Regions from separate parts of the Homo sapiens genome. Here region 2 is linked to region 1. The links come from fine-mapping of genetic effects on gene expression. Tissue or cell type: whole blood. Region 1 holds a variant in brackets; the other region holds the start of a gene. All regions are shown on one strand. Distances are between the middles of the regions.

Evidence for each region. PIP is the estimated chance that this variant, and not a neighbour inherited with it, causes the effect.
Region 2: it holds the start of FRMD4B, and the variant in region 1 is fine-mapped to the expression of FRMD4B in whole blood (TOPMed, PIP above 0.99).

What each region holds. Positions count from the first base shown.
Region 1 is chr3:69,233,244-69,241,351 of GRCh38, forward strand. The region is part of intron 7 of FRMD4B (FERM domain containing 4B); the gene reads right to left. Among named protein-coding and RNA genes, the nearest start is that of LMOD3, 110 kb to the left of the region's middle. RefSeq lists enhancers at 1,783-2,284, 2,285-2,784. The variant G/A (reference allele first, on the strand shown) is at 3,654.
Region 2 is chr3:69,381,191-69,389,298 of GRCh38, forward strand. It overlaps FRMD4B (FERM domain containing 4B), which reads right to left and starts at 4,898. Exons shown (of 23, transcript NM_015123.3): 1 at 4,638-4,898. The coding sequence starts at 4,799. RefSeq lists an enhancer at 4,365-4,975.

The DNA.
Region 1 (8,108 bases):
TGGGAGGCGAGATGGATCACTTGAGCCCAGGAGTTCGAGACCAGCCTGGCCAACATGGTGAAACCTTGTCTCTATGAACAATACAGAAAAATTAGTTGGGTGGGGTGGCACACGCCTGTAGTCCCAGGTACTTGGAAGGATGAGTTGGGAGAATCACCTGAGGCCGGGAGTTCGAGGCTGCAATGAGCCACGATCGCCTACTGCACTCCAGCCTGGGTGACAGAGTGAGACCCTGTCTCAAAAAAAAAAAAAAAAAGATTAACTTGGGTCTGGAGTTCTTTTTTCACCTACACATAATTGTAACTCAAAATCCTTATTTCAGAAAATGTGTATGTGGATGTAAAAATGCCATAGTTAAGTGCCTATTTGAACACTCAGTAAAGTCTAAAGCCTGTTATTAAGTGTATATGTACCATACAGCTTACATAACATGAGAAATTAAAAGATCATGACAGGGGCCTCCCAGGATTTGGGCAAGTCATCACAGCCAAGAACTCTATTTAGTACTGTGTCCCAGGCAAACCAAAGATTTACTGTTATTAGGAATGGAGCTAATTGGAAACATTTGCCAGTCTTCTAGTGTTGCCTTGTATAGGCCTTGATGAGAAGTCATTTCTTTGTCTGTGCTTACTAGAAACCTGTGATGACCCATCAAGGTTCTGAACTACACTGAAGAAATGGGACAGGATTAGTGATCATAGCAGCTACAAAAGTTTATTTAGGCCAGGCGTAGTAGCTCATGTCTGTAATCCCAACATTTAGGGAGGCTGGGGCTAGCAGATCACTTGAGGTCAGGAGTTCCAGACCAGCCTGGCCAAATGGTGAAACTCCGTCTCTACTTAAAATACAAAAATTAGCTGGGCCTGGTGGCGCGTGCGTGTAGTCCCAGTTACTCAGGAGGCTGAGGCAGGAGAATTGCTTGCACTGGGAGGTGGAGGCTGCAGTGAGCTGAGATCATGCCACTGCCCTCCAGCCTGGGTGACAGAGTGAGACCCTGTCTCAAAAAAAAAAAAAAAAAAGTGTATTAAATGTCTGTTACATAGGTGTAACAGGTGCCAACTTAACTATCAATCAAACCATTTGAGCTGGATCTTCTATTGAAGGATGACAGATTGCATAAACAAGTAATTATTAAAAAGGATCTTGGTTACTATTAACAAACACCAATTTCCTCAACTAATCTACTGGCACTGACCAAGACCTGGGTGATTAGCAGTTTAAGAGCTTTTCACTGGCTAGCTTGCCTTCAAATTGCCCTTTATTGAAAAAGAATATCATGTTTCTTTCAGTTATTTGTAGAACCTGGCCTTCAATGATGAATTCAGTGTATTATCTGCTGGACTTAACAACTAGAAATTTCTAATAGTAAGTTTCTCTCTACTGATTCCTAGGTAAAGCAATATTAAAGGTGACAAACAAAAGAAAACAGTGATTATCATTGTACCCTCGTACCCTGGCCAGCAGCATCAACATTATCGGATGACTTTCTGGAAAGGCAAATCTCAGGCTCCACCCCAGACCTACTGGATCAGAAAGGCTGAGGGTGGGGCTCAGCAATCTGCTTTTAACTAAGGGCTTAAGAACCACTGCAATAGGATAAACACAACATAAAACAGAGATTTTGGCTAGGTGTGGTGGCTCATGCCTGTAATCCCAGCACTTTGGGAGGCTGAGGCGGGCGGATCACTTGAGATCAAGAGTTCCAGACCAGCCTGGCCAACATGGTGGAACCCCACCTCTACTAAAAATACAAAAAATTAGCCGGGTGTGGTGGTGTGTGCCTGTAGTCCCAGCTACTCAGGAGGCTGAGGCAGGAGAATTGCTTGAACCCAGGAGGCGGAGTTTACAGTGAGCCAATCTCATGCCACTGCACTCCAGCCTGGGTGACAGAGCGAGACCCTGTCTCAAATAATAATAATAATAATAATAATAATAATAATAATAATAATAATAATATTTTCAAGAAAGAAACTGTAATCAACTCCTTAAATTGTAGAGATGGTCAGGGAGCCTGAGCAAAGCTTTTGGGTGGACAGCTCAGGTTTGTTTTAGGAGACTCTAGCAAGTGACCTGACCTAGCAGTGACAAAACATGAGTGCTGTCATCTAATCCCCCAAAAGAAATACTTCTAAAGGGCCAGGCGCAGTGACTCATGCCTGTAATCCCAGCACTTTGGGAGGCAGAGGTGGGTGGATCACCTGAGGTCAAGAGTTCAAGACCAGCCTGGCTTTGAGGTGAAACCCTGTCTCTACTAAAAATACAAAAATCAGCTGGGTGTGGTGGTGGGTGCCTGTAATCCTAGCTACTCAGGAGGCTGACGCAGAAGAATCGCTTGAGCCTGGGAGGCGGAGGTTGCAGTGAGCCCAGACCATGCCACTGTACTCCAGCCTGGACAACAGAGTGAGACTCCATATCAAATTAAAAAAAAGAAAGGAAAAAAAAAAAGAAATACTTCTAAGGGACAACAGCTCTTTCACTGGGTATTACCAGGTGGCAGAGAGTGGGCTAACCCCTTTCTCTACAGGCATATTATGCTATTAACATCAGTGTCCCTATTTCATGGATATGAAAACAGAGTTAAGGGAGATTAAGCAATTTAAACTCACAAAGCAAATACGACTCCAAACCTGTGCTTTAACAACTTTGCCTTACTCCTCCAGGATTCTAGGAAGAGGGGACAGGAAATAGGGAAGGAGCAGAGGAAAGATTTTAACTTTGAGGCTTCAGCATTTATCATTATGGTAGCCACTGATTAATTCCACCAAAATATGTATTGCTTAGGTGATGACAGTCTGCGTTTTTAAACTAGATCAAACTGGATTAACCACATCAAGGATCTGAACATAGATAACAAGACTTAATGTGTTAGCAGTGTTTCTTGAACCACACCAAACCAGAACAAACCAAACAAAAACCATAGCCTAGTTGTCCCTTAGTAGTGAGGACACCAAATTTAGGGTTTTATTGTTGTTGTTATTGTTTTGGTTTTTTTTTTTTTTTTCCGAGATGGAGTCTCGCTCTGTTGCCCAGGCTGGAGTGCAGTGGCACAATCTCAGCTCACTGCAAGCTCCGCCTCCTGGGTTCAACAGATCCTCCTGCCTCAGCCTCCTGAGTAGCTGGGACTATAGGCACCTGCCACGATGCCCGGGTAATTTTTATATGTTTAGTAGAGATGGAGTTTCACCATGTTGGCCAGGCTGGTCTGGAACTCCTGACCTCAAATGATCCGCCCGCCTTGGCCTCCCAAAGTGCTGGGATTACATGCATGAGCCACCGTGCCCGGCCCCAAATTTGGTTTTTGAAAAACACTTTTACATGAGCTGCAAAACCAGACTCCAGTCATTTTCGGCAGAACCTTAAAACAGGGAGTTGCAAACTGCTACAGGTGAGAAGTCCAATATATCAATTAAAGCTCCTTAAACCACACAAGGTATTCCTGAAGCCCCACTTTTTATACTGATTCAAAAAGCTCAGAGTAAGATCTCTACCCTGGATGAGTTATCTCTGTTACTGTTAGGGTATACTAAGGCCTGGGATGGGATGAAGAAAAGAAGAAACAAGCTGACACTTTCATTCACAGTCAATCATATGCAAAAGCAGAAAGCTAGAGCTCAAGTTCACTCAATGCCTAATGCCACTCCTGATTATTGCAA[G/A]TTAGTTCCGAAAAACTGATTACAGACTGAGCTAACTGCATAACAGCTAAAAGAAAGAGCCCTCTTCACTTTCTACCCACCCAGACTAAACTTAAAAGAGAGCAGCTCCACCTAGCCGGGTAAGCGAGGTGAATTCATTTGGTCCAACCCCTAAATGCACAGATGAGAGAAACAAGACCCACTGAAGTTTGAAAACTTACCAAAGTTCCCACAGTAGGTGGCAACAGATCTAAAGGACCAGAGGTTTGTTCTCTGGACAACTGCAGGCCGGAGCACAAGAGGAGGAAGAGGAGAGAATTGGAAAGCTAGGGAGGAACGGAAGAGGAGGGAGGGGCCGGGAAAGGAAACACCCAGCTGGCTGTGCCAGCCCTTGCTCTCCTCCCCTCCTAAGCCACAGGGTCTTTCATTTTTGGAATTTCCTCCCTACCTTTAAACCTTTCTTGATTTAAACCTTTCTTGATCAGACCTTAAACCAAGTCAGGTTGCAGCTATTTACAGAGTGAAAAGTGAGAACTGAAAGAATTATATAAGCCTTTCTCCTGGCCTCTGGCCAAATCTAGGGATGCCTCCCACTGTTTCTGTGAGAGGTGGGAAGTTGTTGGCCCATCCTTCATCCTAAGAAGCTCCTTCACAGGGCTACAGGTGTGAGCATGCAAAGAAGGCCTTCATGGGGGTTTAGGTGTGAGCATGCATTTCTAGGCTTCATGCATTTCTAGCGCCTTCATGGGGGTTCAGGTGCGAGCATGCATTTCTACACCATCTCTGGTCCCCAGCTTCCTCAGACCTCTCAGCTTCTCTTTCATAGGATGATAAAAGATATTCTTTGGGCTTTTATTTATGTACTCATTTACTGAGACAGAGTCTCGCTCTGTCATCCAGGCTAGAGTGCAGTGGCGCGATCTCGGCTGACTGCAACCTCTGCCTCCTGGGTTCAAGTGATTCTCCTGCCTCAGCCTCCTAAGTAGCTGGGATTACAGGCACGCACCACCATGCTCGGCTCATTTTTTGTATTTTTACTAGAGACAGGGTTTCACCATGTTGCCCAGGTTGGCCTCAAACTCCTGAGCTCAGGCAATCGGCCGGCGTTGGCCTCCTAAAGTGCCAGGATTACAGGCGTGAGCCACAGCGCCCATCCACTTTGGGCTCTTAAGGTGGCCATCCTAGGCACTTGCTATGTGTGACAAGTGCCTAGGATGCATTTTACTTACACAAACTCATTTAGTCTTCATGGCACCCAAGATGTTGGTGCTCTAATTTACAGATAAGGAAACTGAGATTTAGAAAGATCACCTAGCTGCCCATCATTTTACTAGAGCTAGTACACAGGCAGCCAGTACATACCTAGGAAAAAATCAAAAATACCAACCAACCAATCAGCTCTAGGCCTATGATTTGCAGTAATACGGTTTGGCCTTTAGAACTGCATTCAGTCCCAGGTCTCTCTGTTCCTAGGAGTTTTGTGGTCTTAGATAAACTAACCTTTGTGAGCCTGCATTTCCATATTATAAAAATACAAATAGTGACCTGTTGCATAGGATTCTTGGGTATATTACAATAGAATGCAATGAAGGCACTTGCCTATGTTCAATAAATGTGTTCCTTCCTGGCCAGGTGTGGTAGCTCACGCCTGTAATCCAGGCACTTTGGGAGACTGAGGTGGGCAAACTGCTTGAGCCCAGGAGTTTGAGATCAGCCTAGGCAACACAGTGAAATCTCATCTCTATGGAAAATACAAAAATTAATCAGACGTGGGGTACACACCTGTAGTCCCAGCTACTCGGGAGGCTGAGATGGGAAGGTCACTTATGCCCAGGGGGCACGTGATCTGCAGTGATCCATGATCATGCCACTGCACTCCAGCCAGGATAACAGAGAAAAATCCTGCCTCAAAACAACAACAACAAAAATGTTCCTTCCTTTCTGAAGGTAGCATAATAAACCAAAGATTTTACCAAACACTTTATTCCTACCACTCTCTGCCCAGGCTGGTGGTCGATTATTACTATTGAGAAGAATCCTAAAGGGGTGATCTGGGTTAGAGTTGGCAGATTTAATATATTGGACATACTTATACTAAAAAATTGCTCGTTGTTCATCTGAAATTCCAATTTAACTGGGCGTCCTATATTTTTATTTGCTAAATCTGGCAACTCTAAGGGCTTATAATAAACTGCCTGGGAAAAGAACTTTGAAAGTAACTTGCCAAGTTCCGAGTTGTGAGCAGTTTGGGGCTTGGTTTGACAGAGTCTATTGGCAACCAGTGGAAGCTCAGCCTAGAAACTCACTTTTCCAACATCATGACTGATCCACAGGATTGGTGTCAGCCTTTTATTTTCTCAGCATTCTACCAAAGATGCATCCTGTAGCAGGAAACCTGCTTGTGTTCTGGGAAGTGCAGTGTCCTCTCAGCTAGAATTCCTTTGTCATTACATTTTTGTCTGTGGCCTAACTTGTAACAGGGGACAATTACTCTGCCCATCTGCATGCTTGATGGGGATCAACTGTCAAGCTATTTGTTTTTAGGTCTAAGGAATTTCTAATGAGAATGAAAATGTGATGAAAGATTTTTCTAAACGTCAGCCAGCTCCCTGAGGACTCCGATCATGTCTACTTTGAACCTTTAACTCTCTTAATAATGGGTAGAAGAAATATCATCCATAAGAATGACTTAGGTTGGGAAGCAGGTTAACATGAAAATCTACAAATATTTAAAATAAAAATATTTTATTTCTCTCCTGTTAAATTCATAGAGACAGAAAGTAGAATGGTGGTGGCCATGGACTGCGGGAGGAGTGAATAGGGAGCTGTTTAATGGGTGCAGAGTTTCTGTTTTTCCAAGATGAAAAAGTTCTGGAGATTGGCCGTACAACATAAACACGTCCAGGCGTGGTGGCTCACGCCTGTAATCCCAGTACTTTGGGAAGCTGAGGCGGGTGGATTGCCTCAAGAGTTCGAGACCAGCCTGGCCAACATGGTGAAACCTTGTCTCTACTAAAAATACAAAAAATTAGCCAGGTGTGGTGGTGCGTGCCTGTAATCCCAGCTATTCAGGAGGCTGAGGCAGGAGAATCGCTTGAACCCAAGAGGCGGAGGTTGCAGTGAGCCGAAATCATGCCACTTGCACTCCAGCCTGGGCGACAGAGCAAGACTCTGTCTCAAACACACACACACACACACACACCCAACATAAACATTACTTAACACTACCAAACTCTATTCTTAAAAATGGTTGAGATGATAAATTTTATGTATATTTTACTACAATTTAAAAAAATTTATTCTTAAATCTAGAGTTAGAAAAAGGATACATAGGCCAGGCATGATGGCTCATGCCTGTAATTTTGGGAGGCCGAGGAGGGTGGAACCCAAGGTCAGAAGATCGAGACCATTCTGGCTAACATGGTGAAAACCCATCTCTACTAAAAATACAAAAAATTAGTCGGGCGTGGTGGCATGTGCCTGTAGTCCCAGCTACTTGGGAGGCTGAGGCAGGAGAATTGCTTGAACCCGGGAGGCGGAGGTTGCAGTGAGCCAAGATAGCGCCACTGCACACTCCAGCCTGGACGACAGAGCAAGACTCTGTCTCAAAAAAAAAAAAAAAAAAAAAAAAGAACACGTAAAAGAAAAACAATCAATGCAGATAATGTTTTCCTACAAAAGAATGGAAAGTCAAAGAAATGTGTTTCTCTTCTGGGAAACTTCCTACTAGACAAGTGAAAAATTATTTATGGTCAACTTGAAGCCCCAACTCTTTAATCCTTCTTCCTGTATGTGTGATTCAATGTGTCTTTCCTGATCACACAAAAAAATGGATTAACCGCATTAGCCATCTGAACACAGATAAGAAGACTGTATTGTTATGTGTTATGTTATCACTTAGTGTGTTTCCAGAAACAAACCAAAAGGCCTGGAAATGCTTATCAGCGGGGGAATGTAGAATTCTCCCTCAACAATGTCGTCTCACAGCTCCTGTAGACTCTGGATGGTTTGCACTTTGAGAAGTGGAAGTAGTTCATGTCATGCTACTTTCTATTCCTACCGAATGCCACGCATGCCTGTGTCTCAGCCAGCCGCTACCTGAAGAGGCCAAGTATGCTGAGTTTCATTTCAGGACCAAGTAGCTATGATGGGTGTAACGGCCTGGTCCACTCCAGTGGAGAAAGAAACTGAGAACTCAAATGGGTCAAGAGAGTTACTTCCTGTATAGGACTGATCCTATGTGGTGTTAGTAACTGTCTAAAGATGTATTAAGGTGGGACTTAGGGTTTTTGTGTTCATTTAGTTGCATCAGGTTTTTTTAAGCTGTGAAATGCAAGGGGTTTTGAAATGCAAAATACTTAAGCTGTGAAATGCAGAAGCCTGACTCCTACTCTGATTCTATGGTTCATAGAGTAGAGTGTGTGGTCCAGCAAGAGGCTGAAATAAGAGTGGAAAATGCTGCTTATGTGTCCCCTT
Region 2 (8,108 bases), 150 kb after region 1:
CTAGTATCTTAATTATTCATGGTTTGTTGGCAAATTAAGTCACTTGCTTCTCCAATATCTAGAAATGGAAGAAGTGTTCAATTCCAAAGAAATTATGCCTTCCTAGCTTTGCTAGCCTGACAATAATGTTGTTGGCAAATACCTTATGAATAGGTGGGAGATCTTGTTTCACTTATAGTATATGAATAAAAAGAACACCCCCAGGAGACTGACAGGTATTTCATGTAATGGATACCTCCCTTCCCACCCTATTTCTCTCTAGAGTGATGAAGCTTTGGCTTTCCTTACAAACAAGACTATTCAGACTAGAAGCAAGAAAAATGACACCTTTTTATCAACAAGATCATCTAAAATTTGGTTCAGTAAAATATGTAACTCCCTGGTGTGTGTGTTTCTAGTCCATATGCCTGAAAGCTGAGCAGTGCAGTGGAACAATCCCCTCTCTGATTTAGAATTCACAATTATGGGATAGCAAAGGGGTAATCTTATGATAAGCCCCTTAACTCAAATTCCTGTGGCAAAATACATACAAAGGTATTTGAGCATTAATCTTTGTACTTATCTTGAAAAATAGCTAATATTTTTATGTAAAGAGCACTAGATTTGATATTCTAATGATGCAGTGAACATTGTTGGTTGCATTTCAGCCAAACATTTTGCCTTTCCTCCCTGGCAGCTCTGTGGTCTGAGTAGGGCCAACCTCAATCCTAGGTTCAGAAATGGGTCCCTTCCCCTCTAGCCTCAGCAAATCAATGCAATCCAGTGTTTCTTAACCTTTTAATTCATTGTTATCTGCTTAAGGAGCCTTTTTAGATTTTTGTTTGTTTGTCACCCCTCCTATTTTATTTCATTTTATTTATTTATTTTGAGACAGAGTCTCACTCTGTTGCCCAGGTTGGAGTGCAGTGGTGTGATCATGGCTTACTGCAAACTCCATCTCCCAGGTTTAAGTGATTCTCATGCCTCAGCCTCCCGAGTAGCTAGGATTACAGGCATGTGCCACCATGCCTGGCTAATTTTTGTATTTTTAGTAGAGATGGCGTTTTGCCATGTTGGCCAGGCTGGTCTCGAACTCGTAAGCTCAAGTGATCCACTCGCCTCAGCCTCCCAAAGTGCTGGGATTACAGGCATGAATCACCACACTCAGCTACTTTTTGTATTTTTAGTAGAGACGGGGTCTTGCCATGTTGGCCACGCTGGTCTTGAACTCCTGACCTCAAGTGATCTGCTCACCTTGGCCTCCCAAAGTGCTGGGATTAGAGGTGTGAGCCACTGCACCCAGCCCAATCCCTCCCATTTTAATGTCACAGATATGCTGTATTTCTGTTTATATATTGCATGTATATTCGTGCTTTATAAATAAAAGTAGTGAATTTTTTTCCCACCCCCCTCCTCCAAAACAATTTTTGCCTCCTTTGGGCCATTTCACTCTCATTGAGAATGCATAAATTGTCATCCCATACTCTGTGCCAATCAGTGCATGGCATCAGGAGTGGGTACAGACCCTAAATTGGAGTTCCAGCATGTAAACTGGGACTTTTTTTTTTTTTTTTTTGATAGTTGGAGGATATGAGAAATTCTTTCTTTCTGGATGTGTGGATATAAGGCCTGAAACTGCTGTGATTATCTGCTATTGTGAGGGAAGAAACCAGCTGAAGATAAAGCCAACACATCAGCAAGACCAGGTCTGAAAGCATGGTACCCTGATCAAACAATACCTAAAGTTCATTCTACTGCTAGACTTTTCAGCTGTGACAAAAGTCATTTCTTTTTACTCTGTAGGCAAGTTTGAATTGGGTTTTCTATTATAATAAAAAAAATCCTAACTCATGGAAAAGATAACATTTATTGGATGCTTTCTAAACTCCAGGCAGCGTGCTAAATATCTCACGTCAATTAATTCTTTTATCAATCTCTGTGATTAGTACTATTAATTTCTCATTTTATAAATGATGAAGCTGAAGTATAGTAAGATTAACTTACCCACGGTCATACATAGGCAAAGACTGGATTAACTCCCTTGTCTATTTAACTTGCAGTTACTGTCTTTTAGTTCTACACAATTAAGTCACTACTTTTTCACTTAATATTTGAAAAGCATTAAAAAATGATCTTCCTTTGCAAAGGATTATGTTGCACAATTAAGAATATTCAAAGGCTGAAAATATTTTTGAAAATCTTATTTTTGCAAAAGCACAGGAAATATTAAACTTAGAGATCATTTTCTTCTGATTCTGTATTCATAAAAGCCTTTGTTATTTATTTTCATTGATACATATTAGATGTACATAGTTCGGGGGTACATGTGATAATGTGACACATTCATATAATCAAAGCAGGGTTATTGGGATAGCCAATGCTTTAAATATTTTAATTAATTAATTTTTTAGAGGAGGTCTCCCTCTGTCACTTAGGCTGAAGTGCAGTGGGACAATTATGGCTCACTGCAGCATTGAACTCCTGGGCTCAAGTGATCCTCCTGCCTCAACGTCTTGAGCAGAGAGAACCACAGGTTCATGACGCTATACCTGGCTGATTTTTAAATTTTTTGTAGAGATGGGGTCTCACTATGTTGCTCAGACTGGTCTTGAACTCCTGGGCTCAAGTGATCCTCTCACTTCAGCCTCCCAAAATGTTGGGATTACAGGCATGAGCCATGGTGCCCAACCGTTATCTTTTCTTCGTGCTAGAAACATTCAAATTATTCTCTTCTAGTTATTTTGAAATGTACAATTGATTAAAGTTAAAAATAAGGAGTGGGGACTTATTTTTTTTTTATTTTTTATTTTTTTAAGAGATGGGTCTCACTATGTTGCCCGGGCTGGCCTCAAACTCCTGGGCTCAAGGGATCTTCCTGCCTCAGCCTTCTGAGTAGCTGGGATTATAGACACACAGCACACTGCCTGACTACCACCATTATTTTAGATGTTCTTATCAATTATGATATGGTATTGGCTCAGTCACCATCCATTTTAGAGAAAAGAAAAAAATACATATATTTTAGTAGCTCAGTGTCTCAAATTGCTATTCTGCATAAAAATTATCAGTCAACCTTATAAAGAATCCATAAGGTCTCAGGTTTCTGGAATCTTTATTTTTGAATTGGTCAGTAACAGTATTACAGATAAGCCATAAATCCTCTGAATCCTTGGGGAGTGAGGCACAGAGTCACTCTGGTTGGCTACAATATTTGCGTTCCCTTTTTGAAAGTTTCTCAAACACTAAAAAGGAAAAACAAAATTACATAAGGGGCACTTATTCTACAGACCAAACTGAACAGGGATTTCCCAAGAGAGGAAAAAAAAGGCTTGAAAGACAGACACACTTCTGGCTCCAAAAAGCCAGAGAGCTATGTAATGTGGCCAGATGGGATATATCCACAATTCCCTAATACTCTCAAACTCCCACATGCTGCCCTGGTTCCCAACCTGCCTTTCAGATTCCATTTCAAAATGCAAGATATCACAGATATGTTATACAAAGCAGAAGCAGTGAAAGCACAAGTTCAAATGTTCCTCATATTTTAACAAGGGTGACAAGGGGACGCTGACTCTTTAGACTTCCACAGGCTAACCTTAGGTGCTGGCCTTTTCATTTTGCCTGATTGATGGAAGATTATGGTTTGTCAAAATCAAGTGCTTGATCATGTATGAGACACAATATAATAAGACATAAATTCTAGACATATTAGGAACAGGGTCAAATGGGGGGAAATCCAGGAACTGCAACAAAGCTATTCCACATCACAGGAAAGAAAATATGATATTATCTTTCCACAGTAGACACCAAGTATATTTCTAAACAATGCAGATTTTTAAAAATCTCAAATATATTAACAACCAAAGCACAGAACTTTTAAATTCATAAATTACTGTCTAAAAAAAAAAAAAGAAATCCAGGCAAACTGCAGTACCAGAGAGGATGAATGGTCTCCTAGTTGAGCAAAGTTGCTGCATTTTTTGCCTGCAGGATGGGACCGAGCAGAGAAATAAAGGGGCTGTGTTGTGTGACAGGGAGTAAATCCTAACATGAGCATTCCAACGTGTAGCCGGGCCACCCCTCCCTTCCCCAGCCTGTCATCCTCCTGCAAAGTGTTCACAATTTGCTGTCCTTCCTTCCAAAAGCCAGTAGACACAGAATCAGCTTTTCCTGGCTCTGCCTTACAAGTTGGGGCTGCCTGATGGAAAACTGAAAATCCAACGGAAGGATAAAAATCCACCAAGGCCCCCTCTGCCAGCAAATTGGTGTGAAACCGTTGCTTCAGAAGCAGCCACTCCCACCCCCAATGAAATTAAAAAGAAGGACTCATTTGAATGTCTAAGTGGCTTTCTGAAGACCCTCTGTTGCAAAGCAACAGCCTCCCTAGTCAAGCGCCCGCCAGTACACCATTGCTCTGTAACAGATGTCTGCAAACGCTGGGACTATCTCGCAAGTGCCCCCCATGCCCGATTTGAAAAATTCACAAGCTCTGTCAAGCAATAATTACCTAGAGCTGCTGAGCGTTTGACCCAAGGGCCAAGCAGTCTGCTAGGAGTTTAAGAAGAGCTGGGGGGAATAAAATCATACAGGTGGAGCCTGCTTCCCACGAGTGCCCGGCATCCTGCTGGGGCCCTCGGGTGCCGCGCGCTCCAGCTCACCTGGTACACGTCCTGCAGCCCGCACCACGTCCGCAGCACCTGGTGGCAAGCCCGCAGCCTCTCCGTGTACCATCTCCGCAGCGTGGACACGGTCAAGTTCCATACGAAGCGGCTGCCGCTGAACAGCAGGTCCTCCACGCCACACATGAACACCGAAGCCATGCCTCCTCCTTCGCTCTGAACCCGGGCGTCCCGGCTCTCGTACGTGCAGCCCCGACCCCAGCGGCCTGCCCGCCTGGGCTCCCGACGCCGGCTTCTGCTGGCAGCCGGGGGGTCAAGCCTGCCACCAAACTCGTCTTTCACCGTGCGTCCTGGCCAGGCTCCGGCGGCATGCCCTGGGATTGGGTGCCCGCCAGCCAACGGCTGCGACTGGCACACAGAAGCCCAGTGTCCACCCCCGCCCGCTCGCAGCGCCGAGCAAGCTGTGCTAAGCTCCACCAAGCTGGCCCTCGATGCTCCCGGGGCACGGGAAGCCCTGGCCGGCGAGGACTCCCCCTGGCGCTTCCCCAGGGCGCGGGGCAGGGACGGAAGCGGAGCAACTCTTTGCAGGCAGAGAGGGGAGCTGCATTTCAGCACACTTGGCTTCCACGTCTTGCGCGCGCGCGAACACACACACACACAGACACACACCCCCCACACCGGACGAGTGGTCTCCTAATCTGCCTCGGGGAACACCTTACTCATCTTGCTCTGTTCACACTGATAAAACACCTCTGGGCAGCCACAGATGCAGAAGAGAGAGAGAGAAAAAAAAAAATCTCCAAGGCATCCCTTTGGACCCTACTCCTGGGGGAATAGCCACGAATGTTTCCTTGGTTCTGCTGGAAGCAGGAGATGAAGGCAACAGTCTCAAAGCAACAGGCGGCCCTAGAACCTGCCTTTGCTCCTAACTTGAGGGTCTCAGAGAAAATGACAGCCTCCTGTGGTTGCCAGCAGGAAGGCAGGTTTCCTCACACCAAGATGCTGCTAATACCAATGCAGCAGTCAGGGAGAAAAACAGAGTTCTTGGTCCCTTGTAAATAGCTTGCCGTTACTAGTGCTGGGAAACAGAAGCCCATAAGAGAATCGGTGGTTTAGTTCTGGAAAATTCAGCCTCTGGACATGTCTAACCTCACCTGCAAGCACCAACCTGCATGGGTAGTTTATTCTCCCCTCAAAACCAAAGGAAACTGTTCCACCACTCATGAAGTCACTAGATAATTAATCTTATTTATTTATTTATTAAAGTTTTCCCTCGGGAATTGATGCTGATTGTTGGAAACATTTGGAAAAGGGAGCTCAAGGAGTCTCGCCTACCACCAGTCTCTGTCTTCCTTTATTTATTTTTGAGACAAGGTCTGTTGCCCAGGCTGGAGAGCAGTGACTCAATCATAGCTCACAGCTGCCTTGAACTCCTGGGATGAAGTGATCCATCTTCCCACCTCAGCCACGGGGACTACAGGTGCTAAGTTTATTATCATTATTTTTTTTGTAGAGATGGGGTCTCACTATGTCGCCCAGGCTGGTTTCAAATGCCTGGGCTCAAGCAATCTTCCAGCCTCAGCCTCCCAAAGTGCTAGCGTTACAGACATGACCCATTGTGCCCAGCCTCCATTTTCCCTTAGAATGTATGAAGATTTCTCATAGCAAAAGTGCTGTAGCAAATTTCAGGATGGAGTTTTTTCCTGAATCCATCTGTAAGTCAATTGTCTGTATTTTCTTGGCTGTTTCACATCTGGGTTGTTATCTATGCTATTAAGTGGCACCAAAAGGAAAGGTAAGGCACCAAAGCTTTTCTCCTGAACTAGCCCAGAAGACTCCAGAACAGATTATCGACAAGTAAATCAGCTTGATTTCAGGTATCAAATGTGCTTTTATAATCTTAATTCAGGTGAAACTCAATCAGTCAAAAGACGAAGAACACAAAATCTGTCCTCAAAGTGCCTGTTGTTTTCAGTGACTGTAATCAGAAAACTTTTAAATGAGATTTCTTTCGTTAATAAAATTGCCCAAGAGTTTTTGTTGAATTAGTTAATAGGACACAAGACTTGGTCCAAGATTTGCAAACCTTTCTTCACAATAAGTCTTCTCTATGTGCCATCAGTATTAGTATTGATGGTTTTTTTTTCAAGATGATGGTAACGATGAATCTGAATATAATAGATTTTACTGAATCAAAAGAAAATGAACTTAGCTTGAAAAAGAACTGTCATCATGCTGAATGGAAAACTACTGAACTTCAAAAATGCCCTATTAGTACGAGCAAATGGTGGTGGTACTTTTTTTTTTTAAACGATGCAGTTCGACTGTGTTCTCGGAAATGTCAGGCAGCCAAGGGAATACCAGAATAAAACCTACAACAGGTCAATTACCTCTGTCTCATGACACCATCCTCTCAGAAGAGAGGCTCTAGAAACACTCTGGCTGTTAGCTATCTGTGCGTAGGTCTAATGTCAGCAGTCACTTTCAAATTCCATCATTTTCATTCAAGGTTTCCAAAGTCAGGGCAATTTTTTAGAAGATAGGATGTAGTATAATAGGGGCTCTCAAAGTGTGGTCACTGGGCCAGCAGCTTTAGCATCACCTGGGAATTTGCTAGAGATGCAAGCTCTCAGGCAGCCCTGGAATCAGAAATTGTTGGGGGGTGAGATCAGCGATCAGAGCTTTCAGTTGGCCTCTGGAGGATTCCGACTCATGCTAAAATTAGAGAACTACAATAGTGATAGTATGGTGATTAGGAGCTAAATCTTCTAAAAGAGACCCACCCAACTTCAGATCTCCTCTCCTCAGGACCCGTGAGACCCCATATAAGCTCCTTAAGTCAACAAAGTCTCAATGTCCTCATGTGTACAATGTATTATCAGTATTCACTACAAAAAGTTTGGGGAAAATTAAGTAAAATATTCTGTATAAGGTCTTTAGCACGGTGTCTGGTGAAGGGTAAGCATCCAAAGAAAACTAATCACCATAACCCCCCGAATCAAGAATTGCTTCAGTTTTTTGTAGTCAGATAAAACAGTATAAGTAAAATGTGGGTTTTTAAAATGATAGATTTAGTGAGTATAAGTGCAGTGTTGTTATATGGATATATTGCATTGTGGCGAAGTCTGGGCTTTGAGTGTAGCCATCACAAGAATAGTGTACATTGTACCTATTAAGTTATTTCTCATCCTTCATCCCCTCCCACCCTCTGACCCTCCCCAGTCTCCATTGTCTCTTAGTCTACTTTTTTTTTTTTTTTTTTTGAAACGTAGTCTCCCTCTGTCGCCCAGGCTGGAGTGCAGTGGCACCATCTCAGTTCACTGCAACCTCCGCCTCCCGGGTTCAAGTGATTCTCCTGCTTCAGCCTCCCGAGTAGCTGGAATTACAAGTGCACAACACCACGCCAGGCTAATTTTTGTATTTTTACTAGAGATGGGGTTTCAGCATGTTGGCCAGCTGGTCTCGAACTCCTGAACTCGTGATCCTCCCCCCTCGGCCTCCCAAGGTGCT